7 linked regions of the Homo sapiens genome follow. The protein of the gene in region 1 purifies or fractionates together with the protein of each later gene. This does not show direct contact. Each region holds a gene or a part of one and is shown in the gene's direction. Other genes may lie near its edges.

Region 1 (4,281 bases):
TCTCCCTCATAACAGAGACTCAAGGCCTCTGATTCCCACTGGGTGGCTATCCTCATCCTCCCTCCTGGGCTGAGCTTACAGTGGAAGGCTCTGAGTAGGTCCCAATACCAGAATTTCACTCTGACATGCTTTCCCATTCCTGGGATAACCTGCACCCTCCAAGTCACCTTCAAAAATTTCCATTACCTCAAATGGCTCCTGCCCACGCCTTTCTAACTGACTTGGGCTTGGGCTGTTGCCTGGGTTAAAAGGACCAGTAAATAAACACAGACTCTTCCTTAATAAAAAGAATCCCTGTTTCTCTAGAGCCTTGGAGGAGCGTGGGGCACTTGGTAGACCTGGTCGCTTTGATTCCCTCAATACCCCTCAGAGGTGAGGGGCTGCGGGATGGGTGCTCCCCTCTACAGCCTGGGGCACCTCCTCTTGGCAATTCCTGGGAATAAAGGCAGAGGTGGCCTCAGGGCGATTGTTTGTGTGTATGAGAGGGAGGAGAAGGCAAACATAGATTGGAGATACACCCTGACAGAAGCGGATTTGTCTCCTGGCAGTTGACAAGCAGGCCAAGGGACAGAGAGTAGAACTAAGAATGCCCCACGTCACTTTTCTGGAGGTCTAGGGAGCTTTGGGCTCTCTAGGAGGGCAGGGAGAAGGGAAGGGCAGTGACCTGCTGAGAGGGGCAGCCACTGCTGGGCCTCCCTTTTGAGGAGCCCGTCATTTGGTCACCTTGGGGGTCATCCGGAGGTGACTGCCAGCCAGGTGAGAACTGGTCTGGTGATCCCTTCTGGCACCAGGGCCCCCTAGTTTTTCTCAGGACAGAGATACAACAGAGAGAAGAGGAGCTGGGGCTCCCTCGAAAGCTCACACTTGCCCCTGGTGCCAATCGTTGTTGTCATCTGGCCTTGTTCAGAGGCCCCACCTTCTCTTTTCCTCCCAATCAGCTGCCCAGAGCTGCTGGCTCCCCTGTTTACTCTGAGCTGATCGATCACCTTAGCACACAGCTGGCTAGGAGAGAACCATGCAGTCACTTCGGCCACACCTGCCCGTTGACCCTTGCTACCTCGGCAGGCTTTGATCCCTTCTGACCTGGAGGCCAGAGGCTAGGCTGAGGTCACTCAGCAGACATCAAGGACCTGGGCAGATGGGCCGGCTGGGATGGTGGCGAGCTGTACAGATAAAAAGGGACATGAAAATGAAAAGCCCGAGCCTGAGTTTTCATCACGGTTCCACTCCTGAGTGGTCTTGGGTGAATCACTTCATCTGCCAAGGCCTGGATTTCCTCATCTGCAAACTCAGAAAACTAAGGTTTGCTCTTACAGTTACGAGAACGAACTGGAACTTTAGGTGTAAATGCCATGGAGCACTTGGGAAGAACAACAATATGCTGACAGCGGAGATCGGGATGGGAAAGCAGGGCTGGCGGGAGCATGTCGGGTTTTACAGCTAATTTCTTCTCTTCCCACCAGGCTTTGGCCCTCGTCATCCTGCCCACCCAGCGGGGCTTCCCAACCCACCACACAGCCATGGACGGGAAGGTGGCAGTGCAAGAGTGTGGGCCTCCTGCAGTCTCCTGGGTCCCCGAGGAGGGAGAGAAGTTGGACCAGGAAGACGAGGACCAGGTGAAGGATCGGGGCCAATGGACCAACAAGATGGAGTTTGTGCTGTCAGTGGCCGGGGAGATCATTGGGCTGGGCAATGTCTGGAGGTTTCCCTATCTCTGCTACAAAAACGGAGGTGGTGAGTTCACTTTGAGGTAGGCATGGTGGGGAGAGCTGTGTGCTGGCAGCTGGGCAGTGCCTACCTGGGCCCTCCTTCCTGGGCAGTGTGGTTTATAAAAGGAGGGCTATTTTGGAATTGGAGGACTTGAGTTTGAGTTCCAGCTCCACTACTAGCCTCAGCGTCCCTCTCTGTGAAATGGGGACAATACCTCCCAGGGTGACGGTGAAGATGAAACTGGGCAATGGGCAGGACCAAGAAATTCTAGTTTTTAACAAGCTCCTTCATGACTATGTAAAGGTCAATCATTGATAGAATTCAGTCATTCATTCAGTGAACATGATTGCAGGCCTGTCACGTGCCAGACCCGGCGCTAGGTGCAAAACAGAACACATTCCGTGTGCCACCCTCCGTGGGAGGATTCTGAGGAGTTGTACTGTGTCTGCGGCAGGTTGCGGACAAACGGTTCCGCGTGGTCTATGTCAAATGGTGATGAGTGGAGGGGTGAGACGTGACGCAGGGAGGAGGGATAGGGAATGCTAGGCGTGCAGAGGGGAAGGTGACATTTCAGCAGACTTGAAGGAAGTGAAGGCATGAGTGTCGTGGATGTATCCTGGATGGAGAACACTCTGACACAGGGAACGGCAGGTGCCAAGGTCCTGGGGGTGGAAGCTGCAGGCCTGTCTGAGGAGCAGTGAGGAGGCAGGTGTGGCTGGGATGGAATGAGAGAGGCAGAGAATAACCGGGTGAGGGCAGAGAGGTCACAGGGATCACTCAGGCTGAGGTTGGACAGGTCACAGGGGTCACTCAGGCTCTGTTCTGACTGAGATGGGAGCCACCGAAGCAATTTTGGTTGGAGAAATACCTTGCCTTTGAGTTTTTTTCAAGTTAGAGAAACATGATTTTATTATTTTTCAGCACTGGGTGTAAAAATTAGCAGTGGTGGGGAGGGGCCAGTTCCTTATTCTAAGTGCACAATTCAGTGGTTTTTAGTATAGTCACAGAATTGTGCAGCCATCACCACAACCACTTTTGGAACATTTTCATCATCCCCGAAAGAAATCCTATATTCATTCGCAGTCGCTCCTCATTCCCTCTCCCTGCCAGCCCTTGGCAACGCTTATGTGCTGCCCATCTCGATGGATCCCTATTTGGGCTATTTCACAGGAATACAATCGTTCAATGCGCCGTCCTTTGTGAGTGGTTAGATTCATTTTTTTTGGCCTTTTGAAATCACTTTTATTTTTCTTGTGGAAACAGTATATGTTTATTGCAAATATTAGAAACATTTCAGGAAGGTAGAAAGGAATACTCACATTTAGAGATAATTTGTTGAGAAAATCCTCCTAAACACTATTTATATTAAATCTGACCAATATTTACGGAGGGTCTACTGTGTATCTTGCTATGTGTTTTAAACCTTATAGTTGCGATCACAAGCTGCTTGAACTGACAACTCCTAAGAAATAGCGGTAGGCTTTCTTGGGCTGGCTCAGTCTCTGGTGCTGAGGCTGACCCTGGGCCAGAAAGTCAGGGGAGGCAAGATGAAGGGGCAGGGTGGTGGTTTCCTTCTTCATCCAGGGCCACCATCTCATGGCATATAGGATGTTAGGGCTGGAGATGGAGGTGCTCAGACTAAGCCCTCCTTTAGTGGAGGAGGATTTGCCCAGGACTGCAGAGGGCCTTGGAACCATTTCTGCGTCACGGCACACTCCTCACCCAGCCATCTGGGAGGGAGACAGCACTAGGGCCTGGGAGGCAGGGCCGCGGTGTCGGGCGCCCACCCTGCCTCTGTCCTGTCATGCTGGCTGCTGCTGTGGCTGTGGCCTCTGTCCTGGCCGTGGGGTGGGGTGGAGAGAGAGAGATGAGTACCCGCAGTAACATTATGGAATATCGGATCCGGTTACCTCCTTCCCAGCCTAACTCTTGGGAAAGACACCCTTTCTTTCATCTTTAACATGAGGGGGCCAAATGAGGTTGGGGTCCCCTTCTGGAGTCACTGGTCCTTGGGGGTCTAGAAATGTAGTAAAGAAGGGCCAGGAATTCATTTTCTCATTTCCAACAACCTAATGATGGATGGATGTGGAAACAGGATGTCACAGACTAGTCCAAATGTCTTTTATTTTTTTGCTTTAGACTGAACTGTACTAACTCAGAGTGATAATAAAGTTTATATCAAGCTGACCATAAGGCCTGATTGGCACTTAAATATAATTTTATTAATATATGCAGGGAAATTTATTGATTATTAATTAGTAAACATAGTTCTGTAGAGAAAAATCTTTCAAAAGAAACAAAAAAGAGTAATAAAACTATTGGTCTAATGAGGGCTTTGGTTATGAAAAAGAGGGGAGCCCCTGAACTAGAAATCACTCACCTCAAAAGAGAACTTTAGGAAGTTCCCATTATCCGGGTTGTGAGTGGTTCAGGAAAGAGCATGCAGCAGAGGTAAGGCACAATGTAGAGGTGTTGACACCAACCCCAGGCTTCAGGGCACCGTGTCGGTAAAGGTCCCTGTGGGACACACCATGTTGGTAAAGGTCCCTGTGCGACATCGCTGGGCCGCCC
Region 2 (4,281 bases), on another chromosome or scaffold:
CCGACCAGGCCGCGCTGGCCGCTCGCCAGGAGTGCGACATCGCGAGAGCTGTGGCCAGGGAGCTGTCACCTGATTTCTACCAACCAGGTAAAACAGTGCTCCTTTGATGGGTGAGGCAGGAGCACTGGCTTTGGCTTGCTTTTATTTCCTTTTCCTTTCAACATAAAGATGTGTGCTTCCTGAATCCCAGCAGTACTATTATACAAAACAAGCAAGGGCGCCTGCGGTTGAGGATCCTTCATCTGAAGTGCTTGGGACCAGAAGTGTTTCAGATTTCAGATTTGTTGATATTTTTCTGTATTTGCATGTACACAGTGAGATCTCTTGAGCTGGGAACCCAAGTTGAAACACGAAATTCATTTATGTTTCATAGATACCTTATACACATAGCCTGGAGGTAATTTTATAGTATATTTTTAATAATTTTGCACATGGAACAAAGTTTTGACTGCATTTTGACTGTGACCATCGGTCATGTGGAATTTTCCACTTGTAGCATCGTGTCGGTGCCCACAATGTTTTGGATTCTGGAGCATTTCAGATTTTTGGATTAGGAATGTTCAACTTGTAGTAACAAATATCACCCGAGGTCTGAGTGTTAGCCCTGGAGATGGGTTATTCCCCAGAGTCTCACCCTTCCTCCCCTCTACATATGACCAACAAAGTTTGAGCTGATAGCAGTAAACTAGACAAGAATCTAAAATATCTGATTCTAAGAAATTATTTTAGTGACAGCTACAGATTCTATAACAAATACCCCCAAATTCAGAGGCACTTTTAGTAGTAAGAGAAGAGCCAGTCAGTACTGTGACTTTTTTTTAACGTATCTGAACTAAAGTTCAAAGTTCAAAGGACTGTGGTTAGGAAGTATAGCAGCATACCACTTAAAGAGATTAATCTGCACAGAGTAAGAGGAAAATGCATGTCACAATGGAAGAAATAAAAGTGACAACCTCAAAAAAATCGATCTTGGTCATCTGCCTCTCAGATGTTACAAAATAGCAATCAACAAATATTTGCAATAGTTTAAATTCTTAATTCACTTTCTAGTAGTTTCCTAGTAGACTCTTTCTACCCCTCTCTATAATATACTAGTGTTTTTGTTTTGAGTTTCAAAAAGGCAATATTCACCTATTTATATATATTCTCCGTGATTGTTTGAGGCATCAACAGATTTCTAGGTGAAGAAACCAAAATAAATGTTTTCAATTTATGTTAAAAGTTACATTTCTTGGTAAAGGATTTTTCCACACTGGTTTTTATTAAATCAAGCTGTATAACTAGCATCCTGTCCCTAGCCCAGCACCCTGCATGAGGTAGGTGTTCGATTCATGTTTGGCTCTGGTGAGGGGTATACGCTGTCGGAACCCACAGGGTATCACTGAGTCCTAACGAACGATGTAAGTCAAAGTGAACAAAATAGCAAGATTTGTAGAAAAGCTAGAAACTTGGCTATAATCAAGGATGGAGCAATGAGAAATGACCTGGAGAATGGGGGCAGGAGGTTCCTGCAAAGAAAGAAGACAGTAAAAGGCCAGGCAAAGAAGATTCGGTTTTTATAAGAGAAAGGCTGGGGAGGGACCCAAGGTGGTTGTTGAATGATAGATATCATCATCACAGAGTGACTTCTCTAAGAGTTCAAGTCCAAGGCAACCACTGAGAAGGGTATTTTCTTTCACACGCATCTCTTTTAAACCTCTGGTTGAGATTTAAATCATTTTTTATATATATGCAATTTTTAGGAAAAGGAACCTTTCCATTTTTTGCAGCGACCTCTGGTAGGAATAAACTCTCCTCTGGCGTGAAATGAACTCATACTTCCCTGGTACCTACGTATATTGGCAAATTAGCTGTTCCAGGGCGTGAGAGCTGGGAAAAGGGTTCAGCCACCCAGGAGAAATTGTTCTCTCCTCCCTAGCAGTGCTGCCATTGGAAAGAACCTGACTGATCAGGAGGCACTGGGCTTGAGCGGCTTTGAAAGCAAACAAACTTACTGTTGTCTGCAGATGGTAATTTCTTGGTTCTGTTAATTCTGTTGGGGAATGGGGTCCCTTTAGATTTCTATCAGGTGTTAACAAGAGGTAAATGATACGAAAGATCATCTTGGTTTCCCAGACTGAATGGTTTTAAAAGCCTTTTCTGGTGTAAAAGCATTTGAAGGGAAAAAAAATATTGTGGGAAAATGTAATGCCACCCTTTCTTAGCTAAAACAGCTTCATATAAGCAAGTTGTCCGTCAGGAATGAATACATCACAGTAGCATGGACGACAGCGGGTCTATTTGAGACCAGAGCTTGTCGGGGAGGCTGCAGTCCCCTTTGACACACAGCCAGCACTTTCTTCAGCAACTGTATAGAAAGCCTTTTCTGTCGCGGGTATTATTGATCTTCTTAAGGGAGCATAACTCATGCTCTCCACTTTGCATTTACAGGGTGAGCAAATCAGATAGACATTTTCGAAAAGGGCTTTCAAGTACTTCTAAATTAGGCTGGCCATTTAATTTACATATCTCAGATATAAAAGTCTCCATTGTTTGGAATGCATGTGTTCGTGCATAGAAGTTGTTAACCCTGGAATAAAAGATGCCTGTCATAGCTTACATGTTGAACGCTTCCATGGCAAATTACCTATTTTCAGGAGCTGGCAGTATTTTCAGATATTTTCCATCTTAATTAAATCTTATGTTGTTTAGTTTAAAACTGCATTATTCTGTTGTTTCCTGACTTTTTAATGATCGCCATTCTAACTGGTGTGAGATGACATCTCATTGTGGTTTTGATTCGCATTTCTCTAATGAACAGTGATGATGAGCTTTTTTCCATGTGTCTTTTGGCTGCATAAATGTCTTCTTTTGAGAAGTGTCTGTTCATATCCTTCGCCCACTTGTTGATGGGGTTGTTTTTTTCTTGTAAATTTGTTTGAGTTCTTTTTTTTTTTTTTAAGTTTTAGGGTACATGTGCACAACGTGCAGGTTTGTTACATATGTATACATGTGCCATGTTGGTGTGCTGCACCCATTAACTCGTCATTTAGCATTAGGTATATCTCCTAATGCTATCCCTCCCCCTTCCCCCCACCCCATGATAGGCCCCGGTGTGTGATGTTCCCCTTCCTGTGTCCATGTGTTCTCATTGATCAATTCCCACCTATGAGTGAGAACATGCGGTGTTTGGTTTTTTGTCCTTGTGATAGTTTGCTGAGAATGATGGTCTCCAGCTTCATCCATGTCCCTACAAAGGACATGAACTCATCATTTTTTATGGCTGCATAGTATTCCACGGTGTATATGTGCCACATTTTCTTAATCCAGTCTATCATTGTTGGACATTTGGGTTGGTTCCAAGTCTTTGCTATTGTCAATAGTGCTGCAATAAACATACGTGTGCATGTGACTTTATAGCAGCATGATTTATAATCCTTTGCGTATATACCCAGTAATGGAATGGCTGGGTCAAATGGTATTTCTAGTTCTAGATCCCTGAGGAATCGCCACACCCACTTCCACAATGGTTGAACTAGTTTACAGTCCCACCAACAGTGTAAAAGTATTCCTATTTCTCCACATCCTCTCCAGCACCTGTTGTCTCCTGACTTTTTAATGATCGCCATTCTAACTGGTGTGAGATGGTATCTCATTGTGGTTTTGATTTGCATTTCTCTGATGGCCAGTGATGATGAGCATTTTTTCATGTGTTTTTTGGCTGCATAAATATCTTCTTTTGAGAAGTGTCTGTTCATATCCTTCACCCACTTTTTGATGGGGTTGTTTTTTTCTTGTAAATTTGTTTGAGTTCATTGTAGATTCTGGATATTAGCCCTTTGTCAGATGAGTAGGTTGCAAAAATTTTCTCCCATTCTGTAGGTTGCCTAGTCACTCTGATGGTGGTTTATTTTGCTGTGCAGAAGCTCTTGAGTTTAATTAGATCCCATTTGTCAATTTTGGCTTTTGTTGCCATTGCTTTTGGTGTTTTAGACATGAAGTCCTTGCCTATGCCTATGTCCTGAATGGTATTGCCTAGGTTTTCTTCTAGGGTTTTTATGGTTTCAGGTCTAACATGTAAGTCTTTAATCCATCTTGAATTAATTTTTGTATAAGGTGTAAGGAAGGGATCCAGTTTCAGCTTTCTACATATGGCTAGCCAGTTTTCCCAGCACCATTTATTAAATAGGGAATCCTTTCCCCATTTCTTGTTTTTGTCAAGTTTGTCAAAGATCAGATAGTTGTAGATATGCAGCATTATTTCTGAGGGCTCTGTTCTGTTCCATTGGTCTATATCTCTGT
Region 3 (4,281 bases), on another chromosome or scaffold:
GCCCTGCAGCCGAGGATGGACACACAGACATCAGTTAGCCCTCACATCCGGCGTTCAGCCGAGGATGGACACACAGACATCAGTTAGCCCTCACATCCGGCGTTCAGCCAGGGATGGACACACAGACATCAGTTAGCCCTCACATCTGGCGTTCAGCCGTCTGACTGGAAAAGCTTTTAGGCAGAAAGACTTCTTGTTTGTATAAGAAAGTTAAAGCATTTATATTTTTATTTATTGTTTTGAGATGGGGTCTCACTCTGTCGCCCAGGCTGGAGTGCAGTGGCCTGATCTTGGCTCACTGCAACCTCCACCTCCTGGGTTCAAGTGATTCTCTTACTTCAGCTTCCCGAGCAGCTGGGATCACAGGCATGTGCCACCATGCCTGGCTAATTTTTGTATTTTTAGTAGAGACGAGGTTTCACCATGTTGGCCAGGCTGGTCTTGAACTCCTGACCTCAGGTGATCCACCCGCCTTGGCCTCCCAAAGTGCTGGGATTGCAGGCGTGAGCCACCACACCCGACAGAAATTTAAGGCTTTTGAAATTGAGAATGCGGTTCTGGCTTTTAACGGGATATGCTTAATCATTTTAAAAAATGAATTAGTTGCAAATAAGTGTGCTGCACTCAGGCATCTTGCCAAAATTCTCCCCACTTTTCATCTCTTGAGGAAGGCTTGGCATAAGCACACTTTTCTGGATTTCCCAGTTGTGGATTTCTTCTGGGCAAAGGTTTAACCCTCCTGGCAGAGTGTTTTTGGCAATGTGAATTGTCTGTTGGAGGAACATCAGCCAGCACGCCTCCAGTCACAGTTGAGAGTCTGTCTTCTGTTTCTGATGAAGCTGCTCCTGGGTGGGGCTCTGGGCCAGCATCGCTCAGGTGCCCGGGCCACCCGAGCCTGTGGTGTAGCTTGAGCATGTGCTTCTTGAGAAAAGCCTCCTTTTCTGCTGCGCTCCTTGTGGGGCGTCTGTGGCTTCAGGGATCACATGTGTCTAACTGGACCCTTGAAGAGCTTTGCTCATTTGGGCCCTTGCTTGTCCGCTTTGTCTCTGTTCCCACAGAGTATAATTTGAGATAAATTGTTACCATGGGATTTCACTGTATTTCCTTGTCCTTGCTATGAGTAAGTTTTGTGTTAAAACAAAGTTAGATCAGTTAACAAAGTTGAGAGTGAACCGGAGTGCAAACGTGAACTGGCTCAGGCTGATGGACGGTCAGAGTGCACCACTGACTCTCTTTCCTTCTCTTTCAGGGTTGGTACATTGTGACCTATGCCTTGGGGATCTACCATCTAAATCTTTTCATAGCTTTTCTTTCTCCCAAAGTGGATCCTTCCTTAATGGAAGACTCAGGTAGGGTAGCGGCTGTGCACTGGGCTGTGTGGGCAGGTTGGGCCTTTCTTTTCTGATGGGATTGCCCAGTGTTCTCTGGAAACACCCGAGACTCTTCTCTTGGGGTTGAAATGTACTTGTAATGTTGGGTGATCAGGATATGTTTGTAGAATGACTCTTCAAACCCTCCTGACAGCCACGAAGTGGGTGTTCATTCTGTTTTCCCACTTTGCAGATGAGGAAACTGAGGCATACAGGGTTAGGTAACGTGTTCGAGGTCACATGGCACCACAGACAGTAGGGGTCTGAGGTGGACAGTCCGACTCCAGCCCCCGTCCCACCCCAGTCAGTGGTCCCTCTCAGAATCAGCGGAGGCAGCCATGACGAGGTTACCTTTTCCCGTAGCCAGAGGGTTCCACAGGCAGCTCACTGTGGTGCACAGAGACCGCCGGGACTCTAATGCCAGCATCGGGTCGGGTCAGGCTTTGGGCGGCCTTCTCTGGTTTCTGAGGAGCTGTGAGCTGAAGTGTTCCTGGTGCTTCGTGCTCCACTATTGGAAGACTTACGCAGCTCCTGGGCCTGCCTGGGCCAGGTAGGGGCCCTGAGTTCATGCCTGACTGGCCAGCCCCAGGCGAGGAACAAACAACTGCATTCCAGGACGTGGTGGCCATTGAGGGAAAACCCACACGCAGCTCCCTGCCAGGACCCTCCTCGTTCTGGGGGAACCTGCTGTCAGGGAGTAGGGTATGCTCTCACTGTGTGGCCAGAAGCCTGTGAGTCTTCTGTGTAGGATATGTGATGAAAAGATTGCTGGGAACACAGCCCCTCTCTGTTGTTGCTGTTTGGAGGAGACTAGAAAATAACAAAGAGCCCCTTTCCTGTAGGCCTCAGTTTTCCCATCTGTAAATGGGGAGCGGCACCCATCCCAGTGGGGGAGGCGGGGTGAGAGTGGGCTTGGCACAGCTGCTGGTGGGACAGGCCTGGCGCCCGGGTTCCACGGTCAGCGCATCCTCGGCCCCGCCCTGTTCTCTGCCGCTTGCTTTTTATGTTAATTTGCCTTTGTTTTCTTCTGTGCCTTTACGTGGTGCAGCTGACGTGTTCCTGGATGTTTATATGTGGTTGAATTCTTCGTGCATTGAAAACGTGTGGAAGTCTAAAAACATTCTGATAGCACCTTCTGAAAGCAGTGAATTGGATGTGTCAGTTGACCACAGACCCCCGTTTTCTCGTTTTCTCTGGTTAAATGACATGAATCTCGGTTTAGATTTGTGAGGCCTGCTAGTCCAAAGCCTTGAGGGGAAAAGGTAGAACTGTGATGGGAATGAAAAGAGGTGCCCTCCCTGATGGTTGCTCTGCCTTACAGATGACGGTCCTTCGCTACCCACCAAACAGAACGAGGAATTCCGCCCCTTCATTCGAAGGCTCCCAGAGTTTAAATTTTGGTGAGCTAATTCTTCACGGTATTTGAAGAGAATTGTGCTCAAGGGTGGCTGAGACTGAGACTACACTGATTTTTGTTCAAGTCACCTGAAAGATGACTGCTGTGCTGGGCTGGGCACGGGGAATCGCAGGGGCTCTCTGTAGAAGGCCACTCACTACCTTGCCGCATTCTCTTGGTTTCAAGTCAGCACCAGTGCCCTGGAGGTTGAGTCTGGGATGGAGTGCGCACCGGCTTCTGTGGTTGTGGCCTGGGGAGGGCAGGCCCTCTGTCCTCCCTCCTCCTCCCTCCTCCTCCCTTCCTCCCTCCTTCCTCCCTCCTTCCTCCCTCCTCCACCCTCCCTCCTCCCTCCTCCTTCCTCCCTCCTTCCTGCCGCCTCCTCCCTCCTTCCTGCCTCCTCCTCCCTCCTTCTCCCTCCTTCCTCCCTCCTCCTCCCTCCTTCCTCCCTCCTCCTCCCTCCTCCTCCCTCCTCCTCCCTCCTTCCTCCTTCCTCTCTCCCATCCCCAGCCTTGTGGCTCCTTTTGGCTGGCAGAGGGACTAGCCTTCTCCTGGAGTCATTTTTGAGAGGGGTTTGAGCCGAGGTGTCCGTGTCTGCACGGGTAGGCAGAGGTGGGTGGTGCAGCCGTCAGAGGGACGGGAGCGTGTGCATCCGTTTGTCTTGTCCCTCATACCCCACTCTGGGAGCACAGGAGGAACCCAAGTCTGTTAGATCAGTAAACTGAAGGAGCCTGCTGAGCTCGTGGGGCTCCACGCCTTGACTTTGCAGCCGCAGATGGAGTGTGGTACAGAAAGATCAGGGGCCCTGGAAGCCACCAGAAGCTTGGACTAGGAAGGGAGAGCTGAGCCTCCAGGGCCGTGGCATCTGTTGGCCATGTGCTGGGACGGGAGGGAGCACTGGTGGCCATGCCACAGTGACAAGGTGAAGGCCCTGGATGGTCCACAAGACACAGCCTGGGTTTCTCTCCAGATCGCAGGCCCAGCCAGCAGGCATGGGGCCCCCAGCCTCAGTACTGATGCTTTATACTTTGTGTAGTTTTAAGAAGAATTGTGTCTTTCAAGGGAGTAAGAGAAGGATGTTTCTGTGGTTAGGGCAGTACATGTCTGTGAGCTACATGCAAAGGGTCCTGCTGCTGCTGTGCCCAGGGTAGACCCCTCCTTTCCACAGGGATGCTTCTGTTTGCGGGGACGGTCGGTGCAGCTGCAAGGCTGGAGGCGGCCGGCAGGTGCCCGGTGCTGGCTGCAGATGCGGCGCTAACCTTCTCTCCCCACTTGAAGGCATGCGGCTACCAAGGGCATCCTTGTGGCTATGGTCTGTACTTTCTTCGACGCTTTCAACGTCCCGGTGTTCTGGCCGATTCTGGTGATGTACTTCATCATGCTCTTCTGTATCACGATGAAGAGGCAAATCAAGGTAAAGCAGAGGCGCTGCCGCCACGCCGGCCGCAATCGCTGTTCTGTTACCCGCAGCATTGGGGGAGCTGTGCTGGGCTGTGGTGGGTGGTGGCAGAGTCTGCC
Region 4 (4,281 bases), on another chromosome or scaffold:
GTTCAGATACTCAATTTTCTGAGTGTGGTGTATCAGGACCTTGGGTACGAAACTTCATTCAGTTTTGGCAACAGATACTTATGGAGTGTTTGCTATGGGACAGGTGCTAAGGATACAGGATTAACCCGTGGAGAGGTTAACAGTGTTAACCTCTCATACTAGGTAAGCGCCGTACAACATGGAAGCCCAGAGCAAGGACACCCCCTAGCTCTCAGCTTTGGGCCAGGCTCAGGGAACACCATCTAGGGGTGGAGGCTGATGCCTTGCCAAGTCCCAAGGCAGAACTTCAAGAGCAGAGAAGAGGGAAAGAGTATTCCAGGAGGAGTAGCAGGATGGTCAGCCAGGAGGTGTGAGCTTACAGAGAAGGACAAGACTGTGATTTAGTGTGACTGTTGTGGGGAACAGGAAGAGATGAGGCCAGCCTATGGAGCATGCAAGGCTACACATGCCCTGCTAAGTTGTGGAGATTTTTATCCTTGGGCAGGGGAGGGTATAGAGGTGAGATCCAGAAAGACACCTGTGGTGGCAGGGTGAGAGAGGGACCTGTTTGGGAGGAGTGTTTGGGGTCAGAGGGATCAAACTCACAATGCAGCTTTTTTTAAAAAAAAAAATTGAGATGGGGTCTCACAACGTTGTCCAGACTGGTCTTGAACTCCTGGGCGCAAGCAATTCTCCCACCTCAGCCTTCCAAAGTGCTGGGATTACAGGCTTGAGCCACTGCACTTGGCCACAGTGCAGCTTTAATTTTTACCAAGAAACATATCTCTAAGTGGACTAGAATCTGGAACTTATTTTCTTTCTGCTGGAAGGTCTTGGCGAATGCAATCAGGTTTGTTTGGTGAATATGGGATACATGCAAAGGGGCTTGTGGAGTTGTTTTGATCATGCTTTTTAAAATTTATTTTTAATTATGCAGGTAATGTTTGAATATATTCTCATTATAAAAAATTCAAATGATACCAGTAAAGTAAAAGTGCCCCTGATAGATCTCACTCTATCCCTCACCCCTCTGCAAAGGTATCAATTGCTCTGTTTGGGGCCCATCCTCCCCCTTCTCCCTTGCCCCACTTGTAATCCCTTAAGAGAGCATCAGCAACGTAGGTTGCCCCAAAAAGCCACCTCCTCTATAGAGACAGACTGCCCCTCCCATGGGGTTTATTGTACCAGTCCCAGATAGTTACCCTTTCTCTTGAGGGCTACTGGAGAAACACGCATTCTTACCATCCATTTCTGTTGCCATATTCCTTATAGGGCACCATTGTTGAGGAAAATAGCCCAGACTACATAGATTCTTGGCTGTCTGTAGGCATGGCCGTCAGCAGCAAGACTGCTCACAGGTGGGGCCTGGCACCATTTCTGGGGACATGCATACATTCTTAGATAAACACACACTTTAGGCCTCGTTTTGCCACGTCACATGAGTTACTGAAATGATGCAGAGAACTGGGCATCTGGATCTGTATCTGAATCAAAGTCTAACTTTTAAAGAAAAGGGAATCAGGTCTGGAATGGACTGGCTAGATCATTTTGTAGTTACCTGAAGAAGGAAAGTATGGAGCTGTTAAAAAGTCTCTTGGCTGGGCACGGTGGTTCACACCTGTAATCCCAGCCCTCTGGGAGGCTGGGGCGGGTCATTTGAGTCCAGGAGTTTGAAAGCAGCCTGGGCAACATGGCGAAACCCTGTCTTTATAAAAAGATTACAAAAAATTAGCCTGTGTGGTGGTGCACGCCTGTAGTCCCAGCTACTTGGGAGGCTGAGGTCGGAGGTTCACCTGAACCAGGAGGTCAAGGCTGTAGTGGGCCGTGATTGTGCCACTGCACTCCATTCTGGGTGACAAAGTGGGACCCTGTCTCAAAAAAAGTCTCTCACTTTCATTTGTTCAGCTAAAAGCACTAGGAAGTAATGTGAAAGTTTACCATTTTCAGTCATTTAAATCTTTGTCCACACTGTGAGGTGTTATTACACACCTATAACACAAGGGTTGCAGTTTCCAAAAATTAGACCTGTGCCTTAAATTACTTTATTGATTGGTGATTTCCTGAGAACTCCCCACTGCTGAACCAAGCTCTTGGCTTTAGGTCTGATCTAGCCTTATCTTACCACTGTCCTCAAAGTCCCAAATTATCCCTGAGGTGTCTTGTTTTGAGACCATTTTCGTGCTGATAAGCTCTCTGATTTTTTTTTTTTTTTTGAGATGGAGTTTCCCTCTTGTTGCCCAGGCTGGAGTGCAATGGCGCGGTCTCGGCTCACTGCAACCTCTGCCTCCTGGGTTCAAGCGATTCTCCTGCCTCAGTCTCCCTAGTAGTTGGGATTACAGGCAGATGCCATGACGCCCAGCTAATTTTTGTATTTTTAGTAGAGATAGGGTTTCACCATGTTGGTCAAGGCTGGTTTTGAACTCCTGACCTCAGGTGATTCGCCCTCCTCGGCCTCCCAAACTGCTGGGATTACAGGCATGAGCCACCGTGCCTGGCCAGCTCTCTGATTTTACACTGGGAGCTCTTGGTATTTCCAGTGCCTGGCCTGGGAAGTACTTATCAAATGTTTGAGGAATCACATTGTGCGTGTGCTGAATACCCAGGCTCAGGATTTCTCACCTTGCTTTTTGGGACCAGGGTTGGATGAGAGAACCTGTAACATTCTTGGGATTCCCTGTACCCCTTAACCATTGGCCTCCGAACTTCAGGTTTGTCACTTGACACAGTCGCAGCTGTACAGTTTTTTGTTCTGTTTTCCCTCCCGAAATAGCATGTTCTGGTTCTCCATTAGCCTGTAGACCCTTTCTGGGGGTGGGAAGTGTGTGGGAATGGCTTCTTTGTGTTAGCTCCAGGCCCTCGCTGCTTAGTGTGGTTGAGGACCAGCAACATGAGCCTCACCTGGGTGCTCATTAGAAAAGCAGGTCCTGCCTCAGACCTATCCAGTCAGGATCTGCATTTTAACAAATCTGGGCAATTTGTACACATAGTGAAGTCTGAAAAGCACTGCATGAAGCTTACCCTGTTCTCATTTGGGGTGCCAAACTGCTCTAATTGGGCCTCCTGGTCCTGGAGGAGTAAGGAGTCTTTCTCTTTTTTTTCCTCCCTCTTTCTGGTTTCTGGCTTGCACTGTCTAGACACCATGACTCCCCAGTGTCTGGGTTAAAGCGCATATAAGCTCCTCTCTGTCCTGAGCCCTCCTGATGCCATTTCCATCTTTGTTGAAGCAAACTCCCTCTCATCCTTTAAGATACACGTGAAATTTCCACCTTATTCTGTGCCTCCACTCCCTAGCAGTTAGGAGTCCTTCTTTTGGGTTTCTTTATAATTTTAAAATTTTGCTTTTATAAATAATACTTTGATAAACATCCTTCTACATTAATCATTGTTTATATCTGTTGTTGTCTTCTTGGATACATTCTGAGAGGTGAAATTGCTGGTCCATGGCTAATTTTTTTTTTTTTTTTTTTTGAGACGAGTTCTTGCTCTGTTGCCCAGTTTGGAGTGCAGTGGCGTGATCTTGGCTCAGTGCAACCTCTGCCTCCCGGGCTCAAGCGATCCTCCTACGTCAGCCTCCCGTGTAGCTGGGACTCCACGCACATACCACTAAGCCTGGCTAATTTTTGTATTTTTAGTAGAGATGGGGTTTCACCATGTTGCCCAGGCTGGTCTCAAACTCCTGGAGTCAAGCAATCCGCCTGTCTCAACCTTCCAAAATGCTGGGATTACAGGCGTGAACCACCACACCTGGCTCATGGCTAACCTTTCTAAGGAAGGCTTTCGATGCTTATTTCCATATTGGAAATTGAATATTGACATTAACTGGGGAAGATCGTTATTATTATTATTATTGGATTAAAAGAAAAAAGGCAGGAGTCTCGCTATGTTGCCTAGCTGGTCTACAAACTCCTGGTCTCAAGCAGGAGTTGTGTCATTGAGCCCGGTTTGGAAAGATCATTCTTTACAAGCCTCTCAACCTTGGTTGTCATTGAAATCACGTGGGAAACTAAGGAAAAAAAAAAACCCTGACGTCTGAGCCCCATCCTCAGAGATTCTCATTTGATTGGTTTAAAGTGCAGCCTTGGCATTGAGATTTTTTGTTTGTTTCCTTACAGATAATATGTAGCTTTTCTATTTTTCTAGTAACTGATTTGATCATTTTCATGAGCACCCATACCTGCTGGATGGTGAGGAAATGATAACAATTAGATTTGTTAATAATAAAAGTGCCTATTAGGTCTATACTTGATATCTCAAGGTAAGATTCTTGATCTCTCAGATTACCTTTTTATTTCTCTGCTCCTC
Region 5 (4,281 bases), on another chromosome or scaffold:
TGTGATTTATACTCCACCAGTTTTTAAAGGACTGACGTATGTGTAGAATTACCCTTCAGAACAGTCGTACGGTTTATACTTCACCGTACGACTCCTCTCCCCCACTCCTTTGTGAGTCTGGTCTCTTGCCAGTTTCTTACCCTGAGTGGTGCTAAGCAGATAACTCGTGGTTATTCCAAGATAGCATCTGAGTGGAGCCACTTCAGGACTAGAGGGATGTGTCCTGGATCTTTGGTCTGTCTCATGCCTTGCACCAAGCTTGTGGGTGACGTATCATGACCTTGTTGGAGTGATTGAACTTGATCTATTGAGACGCAATCCAGGATCCCTAGAAACAAGCACGGTAGACTGTTACTGTGTGGCAGGTGTTTCAGTGACCTCCCGTCCTCAAGAGGTGTGTGTGACTTGACAATAAAAAAATAAGTGTCCTAAAAGAATTTACTGGCTGGGTGCGGTGGCTCACACTGGTAATCCCAACGCTTTGGGAGGCCGAGGTGGGTGGATCATTTAAGGTCAGGAGTTTGAGACCAGCCTGGCCAACATGGTGAAACCCCATCTCTACTAAAAATACAGAAATTAGCCGGGCATGGTGGCACATGCCTGTAATCCCAGCTACTTGGGAGGCTGAGGCAGGAGAATCGCTTGAACCCAGGAGGCGGAGGTTGCAGTGAGCCAAGATTGTGCCACTGCACTCCAACCTGGGAGATAGAGCGAGACTCCATCTCCAGAAATAAATAAATAAATAAATAAATAAATAAGGATTTACCACCAGAGAAAAGTACCTGGTCATATTTACTACAATCATCATATCATACTCAGTGTATGACTATATTAGTAAAAATGCACTTAACTACTAACCATTGATGTTTTAGGCTTTAGTGTATGAACATCCTGGACAAGAATTAGAGATTGAGCTCTTTGATGAAGACCCAGACAAGGATGACTTTTTAGGAAGGTAAATAAAGCCCATTGTGGTTATTGGAGGAGGGCATGGGGTCAGTCTTTTTGTTTAATAATCAAAAGTATGTTTTAAAATACATTTGTATACTTGTTGTCTATTCATTAAATGGTTCTTAGATATAACAATTGTTTCACCTTGGATTTCTTAAAACATTTTTATTCCTAAAAGTTTCACATTTAAGAGAAGTGAGTCTTCTAGATCTGTGCTGTCTATTACAGCAGGCACTAGCCTTAAGTTAATTAAAGTTAAATAAATTAAAAACTATCTGAGTGGCACTCTCTTTGTTTACAAGGCTTAAAGCTACATGCAGAACCTGCCGCCGTATTGAGTTCTAGTGGACAGTTCTATTCCAGATTGCAAAAATGGGTTTTTTAAGTTTTTTGAGTTGCTGGATTAATTTTTGTCAGGATATAGTAATTCACATTGGGAAAATAAATACTGGTTTGTTCACTTCAATTGAACAACTAGTATAGCTTTAAAAATAAACTTTTAAAATGGTTATTGTTTGACCACCATTTGTTAATATCAATTATTTCTGATTAATTTAACCTAATTAAGTTATTTGACTGAATTAAATTGTGGCAAAAAAGATGTAGGGATAGAATACATTGGAGAGGTTCATACCTCATCAAGAATGGCCCTTGCACGTTGTGGCCTGACTTGAGAGTTCATGAGACTTCCCAGGACAACTAGGAACAATTGAGAGATTTTAAGCCAGACAGGATAGATCAGGTGCTCATTCTAGGAAAATCACTGTGTGGATTGGATTGTCGGGGGCTGAGCTTAGAGACTGGCAGACCAAATAGGAGAGTGTGTCATAGACCAGGACAGAGAGAAGGCGGTGTAGACATAGATTGTGGGGGGCAGAAGAGGCTACAAGAAGAAGTGGGAGTATAATCATCCCATCTAGTTGTATCTGGCGTCTGGGGGTGGTGCCAATCTTGGAAGTACGGGAGGTTTAGGGGAACGGGAATGGGCCTCCTCTCAGATGCACCGAGTGAGGGCGTCCATCGGGCTCAATGCAGCATGGGTCTAGAGCCTGGGAGCAAGGGTGGGGGAACGTGAGGTTAGCGTTCACTGTGCGAGTGAGGAATCCACAGTAACGCACAACCCTACTGGAGTTGTGAGTGAACGTATAAAATAAGACGTTCCAAGAGGACGTGTAAAATAAGAGGGTTGAGATGCTTTCAAACATTTTTTGATGCATGTAACATTGTAGGGAAGATGAGTTGTTTTTGTTTTTGTTTTACAGCTCTAACCTCAGCTGGGCCAAACTCAGTATTCTGAGCTCACAGAAACTCCACCTCACTCTTCCTTACTCTCCTGACACTGGGGGTGAGCTGGAGGAAGCTTGTGGAAAAATAGTCTGTTCCTTGATAAATTATTAGCGTTTTGTTGCATTTCTGGAGTGCTTGTTCATAGACAAATGCTTAAGGTTGTTTCAGGAAGAAATGTGTTTTCTATGTTTTAAAGTTGTTTCAGTAAGAAATGTGTTTCTATGTTCTAAAGTTGTCGTATTGTTATTTTTATAGTCTTATGATTGACCTCATTGAAGTTGAAAAGGAGCGCCTTTTAGATGAAGTAAGTTTCCCTGGAGTGTGGGTCTGTTTACAATTGTTGACTGAGTCCCTGCCCTGTGCCAGAGGAGCCACGAACCACCCCTTCACCATCACACAGTGCCGGAATCCTAATTAGTATGGCATGAACAACATTTACTTAACATATACTAAGAATTTAGGCCTTTTAGAAATAGCAAATGAAAAATAAATTTAAGAGTCCATTCAGGTGCGTGTTGAGTCCCTACCATATGCTGGGAATCCTTACGGATATGAAGCATAAACTGACGTTATTGCAGACAAATATGCGATCCCCTGCAGGAGTAAGGGCAGGGCTGTGCGAGATGCCCCCTAGTGATGGAGATTTTCAGGTGTTTGGAGGGAATGGTGGAGAAGGCACAGTGCGGCCAGTGAGGCATCTCACGTGAGAGATGCCTGTAGAGACAGTGGGAACTCATGGCAAGGAGACTCGACTTCCACCATTTTATTGCTATCAGAATAAAAAGTATCAAAAAGGAAACATTTGTGGTGGCTTCTAAAAGAAGGGTAAGATTTAGATAAATGAAGCAAAATTAAACAAAAGTGTTGAATTCTGCTGCTTTCGTAATCACACGTTTCCTTCCCTTGAGTGTTCAGCATTCATTGGCTGTGACATCTCGTTTTCCTGGGTGTGCCAGGCACTGGATGGACAGTCCTGCCCATGGCTTCTATCATTTAGCATTTGAGGAGCATCTTTGATTAATTATTTTGTGACTTTTAAGCTGATACAACTGTATACTATTTTATTAGTATAGAGTGATGAATTAGAACAAACAGATTAAATCGTTTGATACTGAAATTCAGTATTTGGAATCAATGTTGTATTACCTCTTACCCTGTACATTCCGTTAAAGGCCATTTGGTGGAGCATGCTTGCCTACACCTGTGGTCCCAGCTGCTGGGGAGGCTGAGGCAGGAGGATCGCTTGAGCCCAGCCTGGGCAACACAGCAAGACCCCTATCTCAAAAAAAAGAAGTCTATTCATAGAAGACTTTACTGTCTCTAGGTAGTGCTAGAAAACATTTGAATTCTTATGTGTAAAGTGGGAATGATACTAGTACTTGCTTAGGGTTTCTGTCGGGGTCACGGGGTTGGTGTGTGTAAAGCACTTAGAATGGTCGCTCACACCTGTTGCTGCCATCGCCTCCAAACGTGAGGTCACTGGCATCCACATAGCGTAGAGCTGGATATGGTGAGGCTCAGCCTTCGCGTTACTGAGAACTGTTGATGCCTCGTGGTTAGTGAGCAGCATGGAACATTTGTAGAGACTGGGTTTAATTTGGATTTTTGATTCAGAAGAACTTTTGCTGAACGTAAACATTTTTTCTCTTCAGTGGTTCACTCTGGACGAGGTTCCCAAGGGGAAGCTACACTTGAGACTGGAGTGGCTCACGTTAATGCCAAATGCGTCAAACCTCGACAAGGTGCTGTTGAAGCATGTGCTCTTGAAAACTACCTAACCAACTACTCCTCATAACTGAGCTTGGTCTCTCAGTTGTGTTGCTACTTGATTTTTTAACAATTATAGCAGTAATTTTCATTATTGTGTAATAAGTCACTACAGTAGCATCAGGGATAAATTAAAGATAATGGAGTTTTTAAAATGAAATTTATAGGTCCTTCATACCTGTTTTATCAGATCTTCAGTTTTGAGCTTGTTAAAGTGCAGGGATTTGTAGAGCCAGAAATCACCTGAGTGCTTCATTTAATTGACTTATATATGGA
Region 6 (4,281 bases), on another chromosome or scaffold:
AAAGATTCTCCTGCCTCAGCCTCCTGAGTAGCTAGACCACAGGCATGTGCCACCATGCCCGGCTAAATTTTGTATTTTTGGTAGAGACTAGGTCTCACTGTGTTACCCAGGCTGGTCTCGAATTCCTGAGCTCAGGCAGTCCACCTGCCTCAGCCTTCCAAAGTGCTAGGATTATAGGCATGAGGCACCATGCCTGCCCTCTGGCCTGTTTTTTTCTGTGTAAATATCCAGTTGTTTCAGTGCCATTTGTTGAAAAGACTATCCTTTCCCCATTAAATTACGTTGGTACCTTTATTGAAAATTGTGTGAATGTTATTGGATTCCATTCCTTTTCATTGATCTTTGTCTATTTTTACAATAATGCTATAGTGGCTTATGACATGAATTATGAAAGATCTAATGGATGATTCTGACATGTTATAAATATTTCATTTGACCTTATAATCTACTTTTGGAAAATGAATTTTGAAATACAGTGTTTTCACTAATAGGAATACAGTGTTATGTTATCTCATTTAACAGTTGAATGAAGAGATTTACTTTCAATGTACTTGTCTTACAGAGACCTTTTAATCAAAGTGAAGTTTGGGGAAAGCATTGAGGACTTGCACACCTGCCGTCTCTTAATTAAACAGGACATTCCTGCAGGACTTTATGTGGATCCGTATGAGTTGGCTTCATTACGAGAGAGAAACATAACAGAGGTACAGTTATTAGGGGATTTTTTGGGAGAGAAATTAATTTAGGGGTGCTGTAGTTTGGATTAAGGAAAAATAGTAGGTTTTCTTTTCATTTTGTTAAAGTGTATAAAGTGACATTTTTAGAGATAGACTGGGCATAGTCTTTGACAAGTGAGTGACTCTTGTCAGGAATAAGCCAACTAAACTGAGCTAGTTAAATGCTTTTTAAGGTGGTTCATAGTTCAGTGACTAAGAAAATTATCTGGGTGTATGTGTATGTCTTGAGAAAATTAATGATTAATAAATAGTGCCTCAACAGTAACTTTGTTAATGAGAATGACATATACCCCAACATCTGGGTAAGTTTGATATGTGAGGAGAAGAAACTAATATTTAATAGATGTCTATATGCCAGATATCTTCATTTTCTTTTAAAAAGAAAGATCGTGTCCTGCACCCTTTACATAAATTAATCTTTATAACAACCCTGGAGGTGGAATCTCCATTTTATATATAGGGAAACTGAGGGCTGGGTGCAGCGTCTTACGCTTGTAATCCCAGCACTTTGGGAGGCCAAGGCAGGCAGATTGCCTGAGCTTGGGAATTCGAAACCAGCCTGGGCAACATGGCGAAACCCTGTTTCTACAAAAATACAAAAATTAGCCAGGTGTGGTGGTGGGCGCCTGTAATCCCAGCTACTTGGGAGGCTGAGGCCGGAGAATCACTTGAACCTGGGAGGCGGAGGTTGCAGTGAGCCGAGATCGCATCATTGCACTCCAGCCTGGGTGACAGAATGAGACTTTGTCTCAAAGAAAAAAGAAACTGAGGCGCAAAGAGGCCAAGTAACTTATCCAAAATCACATAGATAATTGGAAGAGCCAAAAAATGGATCCAAGATTGTCTAGTTGTAATGTTGTTGCCCTTGTTGGACCTGAATCTTACCCCGTAGTTAGAAAAGTTTCCCCAACTTTGGTAAGAATTCCCTGGGGGCACTTTTGTACAGAGTATTGCCTTCCAGGGAAATCCTGATTCAGTAGGCCTAGATTGGGCCCCAAAATCTGGTTTGAAGAACCCAGATGATTTCTTTTTTTTTTTTTTTTTAATTATTGTGGGTACGCAGTAGGTATATGTAACCTAGGTGATTTCTGTTAAGAAATTTTGGGAGACACTGTCTTAGTTGATAAGATTATAATCTACTTACGAATTTTTAAAACTGTAAAATAGATGCATCTATAGTTATTCATGATGGCAGTTTATTTCTAATCGTGGTTTAGGCCAGTTTCTTTATCCATTTATTTTATTTTAATTGTTTTTGAATAAGTAATTACATTCTCATGGGTTCATTGAGTAGATATAAAAAGGTATGCAATGATAACATTCTGCCTGTGTCAACCACTAATCAGCAAGTGTGTTCTCAGTTTTTTGTGTATGTATGACAGTTTACATACACATACAATTATGGAAGGACCTCATTTTTTTTTAATTTAATGTTTTTTTTTTTTTTTTTGAGACAGAGTCTCTGTTGCCTAGGCTGGAGTGCGGTGGCACAATCTTGGCTCACTGAAACCTCTGCCTCCCAGGTTCAAGTTCTCCTGCCTCAGCCTCCCGAGTAGCTAGGATTACAGGTGCATGCCACCATGCCTGGCTAATTTTTGTATTTTTAGTAGAGGTGGGGTTTCACAATGTTGGCCTGGCTGATCTCGAACTCCTGACCTCAGGTTATCTGCCCACCTTGGCCTCCCAAAGTGCTGGGATTACAGGCATGAGCCACCGGCCAGAAGGATCTCATTTCTTTTCTTCAATGAATTATGAATTCTAAATGAGGCTATTCAAATTTAAAATAATAGATTTCAAATTTCAACACAGTTTTTGGCTTGTAAGGATATGGGTTGGAATCATATTTAAATCTACTTAATAAAATCACTTACCGTGTTCTAAGAAAATCAAAGTTTTTTGGATGGGGGTTACCCAAAAATTCATATCTTTGGATGGGGATGAGATTTGGATGTTTGAAGGTTGACTGTTAGAAGAAAAGGGTACAGGTAGAGAGTGCCATTATAGATTGATTAACAAGTTTATCTTGATCTTGATTTTCTGCTTTCTAATCTTCTAATCCATAATTATAAGCCTTGTAAGTGTATTTACTTCTTTATTTTGGAAACTTCTAGAAAAATAGATGTTACATTTGTGACGTTTAAATATATGGAATTTGATGCCTGACATATTCCTTCTGCCTAGTTGAGATTATGGCCCAATTCCTCGTACAGAGAAACTTTGTTATGCTAAGTGTTATTATATAATAAGTGTAACTGGGTAGAAGGAATTTATATGTAGGGACTGATTGATGCTTGTATACCTGGATTAATGTCTTGACTCTGCTCCAGGAAATAAAATTTTTGGCTGCAACAAATGGAACTGTGGGCCCAGATTAAATGAGTGGTGTGCCAGCAAAATGCTTTGTAAGGAGTTTGTGATGGTTTGTGAATAATTTGAAAATAAATGCAAGCCTTAAGTAGGTTCACCAAGGATAAGGCAGATCAAATAAACCTCATTTCACTTTTTTAGGTAGGGTTATTAAACATATTTTTTCATCAGAAGTCTCTTAGATTCTTTGAAAGCAGTATAATATTAGATTGAAACGTATAAAATTGCTGTTTTGTGGGTCAAAATGGAAACAGTTTTTGAAACCATAAGTTTTACTCAAAGTATGTAGTATTAAGGCTTCTGCTTCTGGTCAAGTGGAGAACAGGTAACAAATTTAGTCTCTTACTTGAAACAAGCAAGAAATAGACAAAATATATGAAATAATGAAAAAAGTCATTGAATATCAGGCAATGAAGGGCAGAGATATCCGAGAGAAGGGAAGTAAGTAAGGTGAGCCCTACTGTCATCCAGCTTATTTCCTTGAGAATATTTTCAGGCTTAATGCAGGGAGGAGAAACTCAAGCAGAGCCTAGTGGACTTTTTGAGTTGAGGAGATAAAGTTGAGATGCTGGGCAGGCCAAGGTAACTAGAATTCACGGGACAGTGTACCAGAGGGGAGAGAACGTCATAGAGGCAGAACTGCAGAAATAACAGAAGGTTCCTTTCAAGTATGTAGCTGAGTATTTATCAGTGTGTATATGTTAGGAAACTACCTGATGCCAGGGAAAGAGCCATCTGACAAAATGAGCGGTAACAGTGTCTGGTACTCACACAGGGACAGGAGTAGTACCTCGTCCCAGCAACCAGACTGAGAAAAGCCTTATAATTTCTTGAACAATGGAAAAACAGAGAACTTTTACTCAGTAGCAGGGAATACTTAGCCACAAACTGAACATTGCTTTAGTCCTGCATAACAAATCTTAAAAACAAAACCTTAAAAAAATATCAAACTTTTTCTAAGTAACTTATCTGCATCCCAAACAAAGCTCAAGAATATGTATAGGGATATAGACATATCCAGCAAGATCAAATTAGCAATTTCTTGACTGTAATAATAAATTAGCAGCTAGGCAAGGATGGGGGGAAAAATGACCTATAATGAGGAGGTGAATCAATCAGTTAAAACCAATCCAGAATTGACCCAGATGTTAGAATTAACATCATCTCTACTAAAAAT
Region 7 (4,281 bases), on another chromosome or scaffold:
TGGACATGGCTTCAGCAGCTCTCTTGGGTCTCCAGTTTCCTGGATCCTATGTTGTTGTCCTTGAGTAATAGTTCACATAGGAGTAGAATTCTAGGTTGCAAAAAGTTTTCCTCAAAATTTTGAAGTTTTTCATCATTGTCTTCTAGAATCCAGCTTGCTGTTGAGAAATCTAAGCCTACTGTGATTTTTACTCCTGTTTTTTCTCTAAAAGCTTTCAAGAGCATCTTTTAAAAAATCTCAGATATTTTAAAGCTTCACAGTTATGAACTTGTTCTGGAAGTGGGGATGTCACTGCTTCCCCCAAATTATAACCATGTAGAGCAGCTGTGGGTACCTAGAGACATTCTGTGTTCTCTTCCCCTTTTTTTTGAAGGGTGATTATTGATGGTCCTACATGGGCCACTGTTCTAGGCCCTGGTAGTAGAACAATGAAGAGGACACACAATTCCTGCCCTTGGGAAGCTTACATTCTAGTGAGGGGAGACAGACAATACACACACACAAATGAATACTTCTAGGCGATGGGGAGAGTTACTAAGAAAATAAAGTACCCAGTGGAGGGCCTTGGCAGGGAAGCTGGGGAGCAGCTGCTTCAGATTGGCTGAGAGGGAAGATCTCCCCAGGAGGGGACATTTTACATGAGCCCTGAACAAGGACACCTGCAAACGTGCTCTAAGCAGAGGAAGTCAGTGCCACAGACAATTTAAACTGTGTTCAAGGATGAGTGAAGACCCCTGTGTTCCTGGAGCCAAAGGAGAATAGGGGAGAGTGGTGTGTAGGAGGGAGGCAGGAGCCAGCTTGTGCTGTAAGAGGGGGGGCATTCTGCCATGTTTGGAGAATGAACTGAGACTAGCAAGAGCAGCCATAGCAAGGTCACGTGGGAGGTGATTGCAGGGTCCAAGGAAGAGAGTCTAAGACAAGATGATCTCTTCCCTGCCTGGAATCTGCTGTCAGGAACAAGGTACCGGGAAGATGTGCACAGGAGGCCAGCCCTGCCAGGCCCAGGAGCAGTGGTGGATGCAACAGGGAAAGGTGGTGTCTGTTATTTGAGGGATAATGTAAGCAAGGTTCTCTTTCTTGCAGGGCCCAATGGCTGCAAAATCGCAACCCAACATTCCCAAAGCCAAGAGTCTAGATGGCGTCACCAATGACAGAACCGCATCTCAAGGGCAGTGGGGCCGTGCCTGGTAAGGATCTTGCCTGTTCTCCCAGCTAGAAAGTAAAGTGTGGTCTCAGAGCTTTCCAGCCTTTGGAATTGTATGGACCCAAAGGAATGAAGGACCTTTTTAAAAAAGATTTTTTTTTTTTTGTCAAGACTAATGAAAGGTAAACAGTTTTCCACTTTATAAAGTAAGGAATTATAAAAAGAAACTAGAAATCATGGTCAGTCAACAACTTAGAAAAAAAGATAAAGGCTTAAAGGGCAGCTGGGGCCTTCCCACCATCTGGGGGTATGACCTATTGTCACAGCTCCCATTTCGCCATAGAACCATGGGGACTTCGTGCAGGGTGAGTATCCTCTCCGACCTGGAACTGGGGAAACCACTGGCCTTGGTGGTTGTGAAAGACCTACCTCCGCTCATATTCTGAGCTCTGGGCCTTCCATGGGGGCCACAGATAGTGCCACCAGTTAATCAACTACAGTAGAGCAGGCATGTTGAGTGGCTTCCCTGGCCGCAAGGAGGGCCCGTGCTAGGAGCTAATGCCTTCTGTCATGGGGTACTGGTGGGTTTGAGCAACAGTTCTCCCACACAGAGCCTCTTAGGGTCCTGGTGGGGCCCAGGGCAGATGGGCCCCAGTGTGACTGCCTGCATCCGTCCTCGCAGGGAGGTGGACTGGTTTTCACTGGCGAGCGTCATCTTCCTACTGCTGTTCGCCCCCTTCATCGTCTACTACTTCATCATGGCTTGTGACCAGTACAGCTGCGCCCTGACTGGCCCTGTGGTGGACATCGTCACCGGACATGCTCGGCTCTCGGACATCTGGGCCAAGACTCCACCTATAACGAGGAAAGCCGCCCAGCTCTATACCTTGTGGGTCACCTTCCAGGTCAGCAGCCCCTGCCCTGGGGTTGGGACACAGCAGGTGGGGAGCGTGCCCTCCTGCTGGGGTAGTCCTTCCATTTGTCTGGGACATGGATCCTGGCTCAGGTTGACATCTGGGTTCCCGGGACCCAGCAGGGCATTCCCTGGACTCTGACATGTTCAGATTCATCCTCAGCTGTAAGGCAGGAGGCACCTGTCACATCAGCGTTTGATACACCTTCACGGCATGCCTGCATGCAGTTGCTGGGCACGCCCAGCTCTGCAGGGACAAGCTGAGGATAGGAGCAAAACCCCGTGGGAGGGCAGTGCTGTCCTGAGGAAGCCCCATTGTCAGCAGGAGTCACGCCTTGCACCAGGTCTGGAAAGGAGCATCTCAGTCCCCAAAGGGACTCTCTCAGTCATGAGATGCCACTCAGAGAAGCGAGGGCCATGTTTCCCCACAGGCAGTCGAGGCAGGTCCAGGACGTCCTCAGCTCCATGGTGTCCCCACTGGCCTCCCAGTCCAGAGGGAGTTCCAGGAAGGGGTTGTTGTAAACCTGGTGCACACATGGGTGGTGCTGATTGCCTGAACCCAGGAAAAGGTTTCCAGGGAAACGGTGCTAGAAAGAGACAGGCCTGGGTTTTCCTTCCTGGGCGGGAGGAAGGCTCAGATCATGATTAGCTGTTTCTCCCCAGGGTCCAAGCTTCTGGGCTCCAGAATACTTCTCAGTTCAGATCTCTTGGTCCCTTTGAGTGAAAAATGACAGGGGCAGTGTGAATCACAAATAGCCACAAAGCAGGAACCCCCACCTGTCCATCAGTAGATGAATGGACCCACAGAACAGAACACTGTGCCCACTGTGGGACACTATTTGGCAGCGGAAGGGAATGAAGCTCTGATGCCAGTAGGCGGATGACCCTTGAAGACACTGCTGAGCGAGAGAAGCCAGTCACAGAGGCTGCATACTGTGTGGTTCCCTTTATATGCAATACCCAGTACAGGCAAATCCACAGAGGCAGAAAGCTCAGTGGCAGCCAGGGGCGGCAGGGACAGGGAATTCAGAGTGACCGGAGATTGGAACAACATTTTCTTCTGTGGTGATGAAAAGTTCTGGAATTAGCAGTGATAGGTGTACAACCAACCATGTAAATGCGCTAAATGCCGCTGAATTGTGCACTTTAAAAGGGTGAATTTTAGCCGGGTGTGGTGGTGCACACCTGTAATCCCAGCTACTTGGGAGGCTGAGGTGGAAGGATCACTTGAGCTCAGGAGGACAACGCTGCGGTGAGCTATGATTGCACCACTACACTCCAGCCTGGGTGGTAGAACAAGACCTCATCTCAAAGATAGATTTATATATATATATAAAAAGTTGAATTTTATGGGATTCTCCATTTTAAAAAGGTGACTGGGAGGGACCTGTGCGCTCTCCTGAGGGGCGAATGGAGCCCTGGGGGAGAACGCCTTGGCACCTTCCCTGGTTGATGAGTTTATTGTCTCAGAACCCCCTTCAAAACCCACAGCCCAGCAGTTTGAGCTTCCAGGAGCCATAAGTGCTTCAGGAAGAAAAAGACTATGATTGTGATTCTCATGTTCCTGCTATGCGTCCCCCTTTGCAGGTGCCCTCCAGGCGGGGGGTGATCAGGCTGCTTGTGTGTTTCAGGTGCTTCTGTACACGTCTCTCCCTGACTTCTGCCATAAGTTTCTACCCGGCTACGTAGGAGGCATCCAGGAGGGGGCCGTGACTCCTGCAGGTAGCCTCCTCCCTTCCACCCTCCCCAGGCTCCCGTTCTCATCCCTTTCTCTCAGGGGCCAGTCCTCCCCAGCGCTGCTTTGTCCCTAAGACTTGTCACAGGATAGAAATCCATTTTGCTTGGATTTTTCACAGCACCAGGCCTCAAAACCATTGAGGGCAGCTGGGGCCATCCCACACCCAGGTTAGAAATCACTTTCCTGGGTAAGGAGGGAATGGATGGCCCAGCTCCTTCCCAGCCCCATAGCAGGGGATGCACTCGGCCCATGAAGCTTCCTGCAGAGACCACCATGCAGAGACCACCATTCCTCGGGGCTGTCCGTGGGAGACCTTGTCTGTTCATTCCTTGCCATCATTGAGAACCCACGAGGAGCCTGGCTTTGTGCCTCTCACGTGGGTGCAGACTGGAACCGCATCCCAACTCTGCCCCCAGAAGCTCCCTGTTTTGAGGGGTGGATGGGCTGAGGTGCTCCCCAACAATTACAGAGGGGGCCAGGCATACC

What was found.
Region 2: the proteins of SLC6A12 (region 1) and JPH1 purify together in Homo sapiens (affinity purification with mass spectrometry; one large-scale study listed by BioGRID and IntAct). This does not show direct contact.
Region 3: the proteins of SLC6A12 (region 1) and RER1 purify together in Homo sapiens (affinity purification with mass spectrometry; one large-scale study listed by BioGRID and IntAct). This does not show direct contact.
Region 4: the proteins of SLC6A12 (region 1) and PARP16 purify together in Homo sapiens (affinity purification with mass spectrometry; one large-scale study listed by BioGRID and IntAct). This does not show direct contact.
Region 5: the proteins of SLC6A12 (region 1) and ESYT2 purify together in Homo sapiens (affinity purification with mass spectrometry; one large-scale study listed by BioGRID and IntAct). This does not show direct contact.
Region 6: the proteins of SLC6A12 (region 1) and PIGX purify together in Homo sapiens (affinity purification with mass spectrometry; one large-scale study listed by BioGRID and IntAct). This does not show direct contact.
Region 7: the proteins of SLC6A12 (region 1) and DHCR7 purify together in Homo sapiens (affinity purification with mass spectrometry; one large-scale study listed by BioGRID and IntAct). This does not show direct contact.

What each region holds. Positions count from the first base shown.
Region 1 is NC_000012.12:207,226-211,506, reverse strand, and holds part of SLC6A12 (sodium- and chloride-dependent betaine transporter), read left to right. Parts: intron 1-938; exon of another isoform or gene 939-1,302; intron 1,303-1,463; 5' UTR 1,464-1,520; coding exon 1,521-1,734; exon of another isoform or gene 1,735-1,750; intron 1,751-4,281. UniProt on the Homo sapiens protein: Transporter that mediates cellular uptake of betaine and GABA in a sodium- and chloride-dependent process.
Region 2 is NC_000008.11:74,255,191-74,259,471, reverse strand, and holds part of JPH1 (junctophilin-1), read left to right. Parts: coding exon 1-87; intron 88-4,281. UniProt on the Homo sapiens protein: Junctophilins contribute to the formation of junctional membrane complexes (JMCs) which link the plasma membrane with the endoplasmic or sarcoplasmic reticulum in excitable cells.
Region 3 is NC_000001.11:2,398,166-2,402,446, forward strand, and holds part of RER1 (protein RER1), read left to right. Parts: intron 1-1,249; coding exon 1,250-1,349; intron 1,350-2,691; coding exon 2,692-2,770; intron 2,771-4,041; coding exon 4,042-4,177; intron 4,178-4,281. UniProt on the Homo sapiens protein: Involved in the retrieval of endoplasmic reticulum membrane proteins from the early Golgi compartment.
Region 4 is NC_000015.10:65,279,603-65,283,883, reverse strand, and holds part of PARP16 (protein mono-ADP-ribosyltransferase PARP16), read left to right. Parts: intron 1-4,281. UniProt on the Homo sapiens protein: Intracellular mono-ADP-ribosyltransferase that plays a role in different processes, such as protein translation and unfolded protein response (UPR), through the mono-ADP-ribosylation of proteins involved in those processes.
Region 5 is NC_000007.14:158,759,757-158,764,037, reverse strand, and holds part of ESYT2 (extended synaptotagmin-2), read left to right. Parts: intron 1-872; coding exon 873-955; intron 956-2,493; coding exon 2,494-2,542; intron 2,543-3,890; coding exon 3,891-3,980; intron 3,981-4,281. UniProt on the Homo sapiens protein: Tethers the endoplasmic reticulum to the cell membrane and promotes the formation of appositions between the endoplasmic reticulum and the cell membrane. Binds glycerophospholipids in a barrel-like domain and may play a role in cellular lipid transport.
Region 6 is NC_000003.12:196,721,853-196,726,133, forward strand, and holds part of PIGX (GPI alpha-1,4-mannosyltransferase I, stabilizing subunit isoform 2 precursor), read left to right. Parts: intron 1-562; coding exon 563-704; intron 705-4,281. UniProt on the Homo sapiens protein: Stabilizing subunit of the glycosylphosphatidylinositol-mannosyltransferase I complex which catalyzes the transfer of the first mannose, via an alpha-1,4 bond from a dolichol-phosphate-mannose (Dol-P-Man) to the glucosaminyl acyl phosphatidylinositol (GlcN-(acyl)PI) intermediate to generate alpha-D-Man-(1->4)-alpha-D-GlcN-(1->6)-(1-radyl,2-acyl-sn-glycero-3-phospho)-2-acyl-inositol and participates in the sixth step of the glycosylphosphatidylinositol-anchor biosynthesis.
Region 7 is NC_000011.10:71,441,761-71,446,041, reverse strand, and holds part of DHCR7 (7-dehydrocholesterol reductase), read left to right. Parts: intron 1-1,083; 5' UTR 1,084-1,089; coding exon 1,090-1,187; intron 1,188-1,755; exon of another isoform or gene 1,756-1,826; coding exon 1,827-2,049; coding exon of another isoform or gene 2,050-2,085; intron 2,086-3,688; coding exon 3,689-3,779; intron 3,780-4,281. UniProt on the Homo sapiens protein: Oxidoreductase that catalyzes the last step of the cholesterol synthesis pathway, which transforms cholesta-5,7-dien-3beta-ol (7-dehydrocholesterol,7-DHC) into cholesterol by reducing the C7-C8 double bond of its sterol core.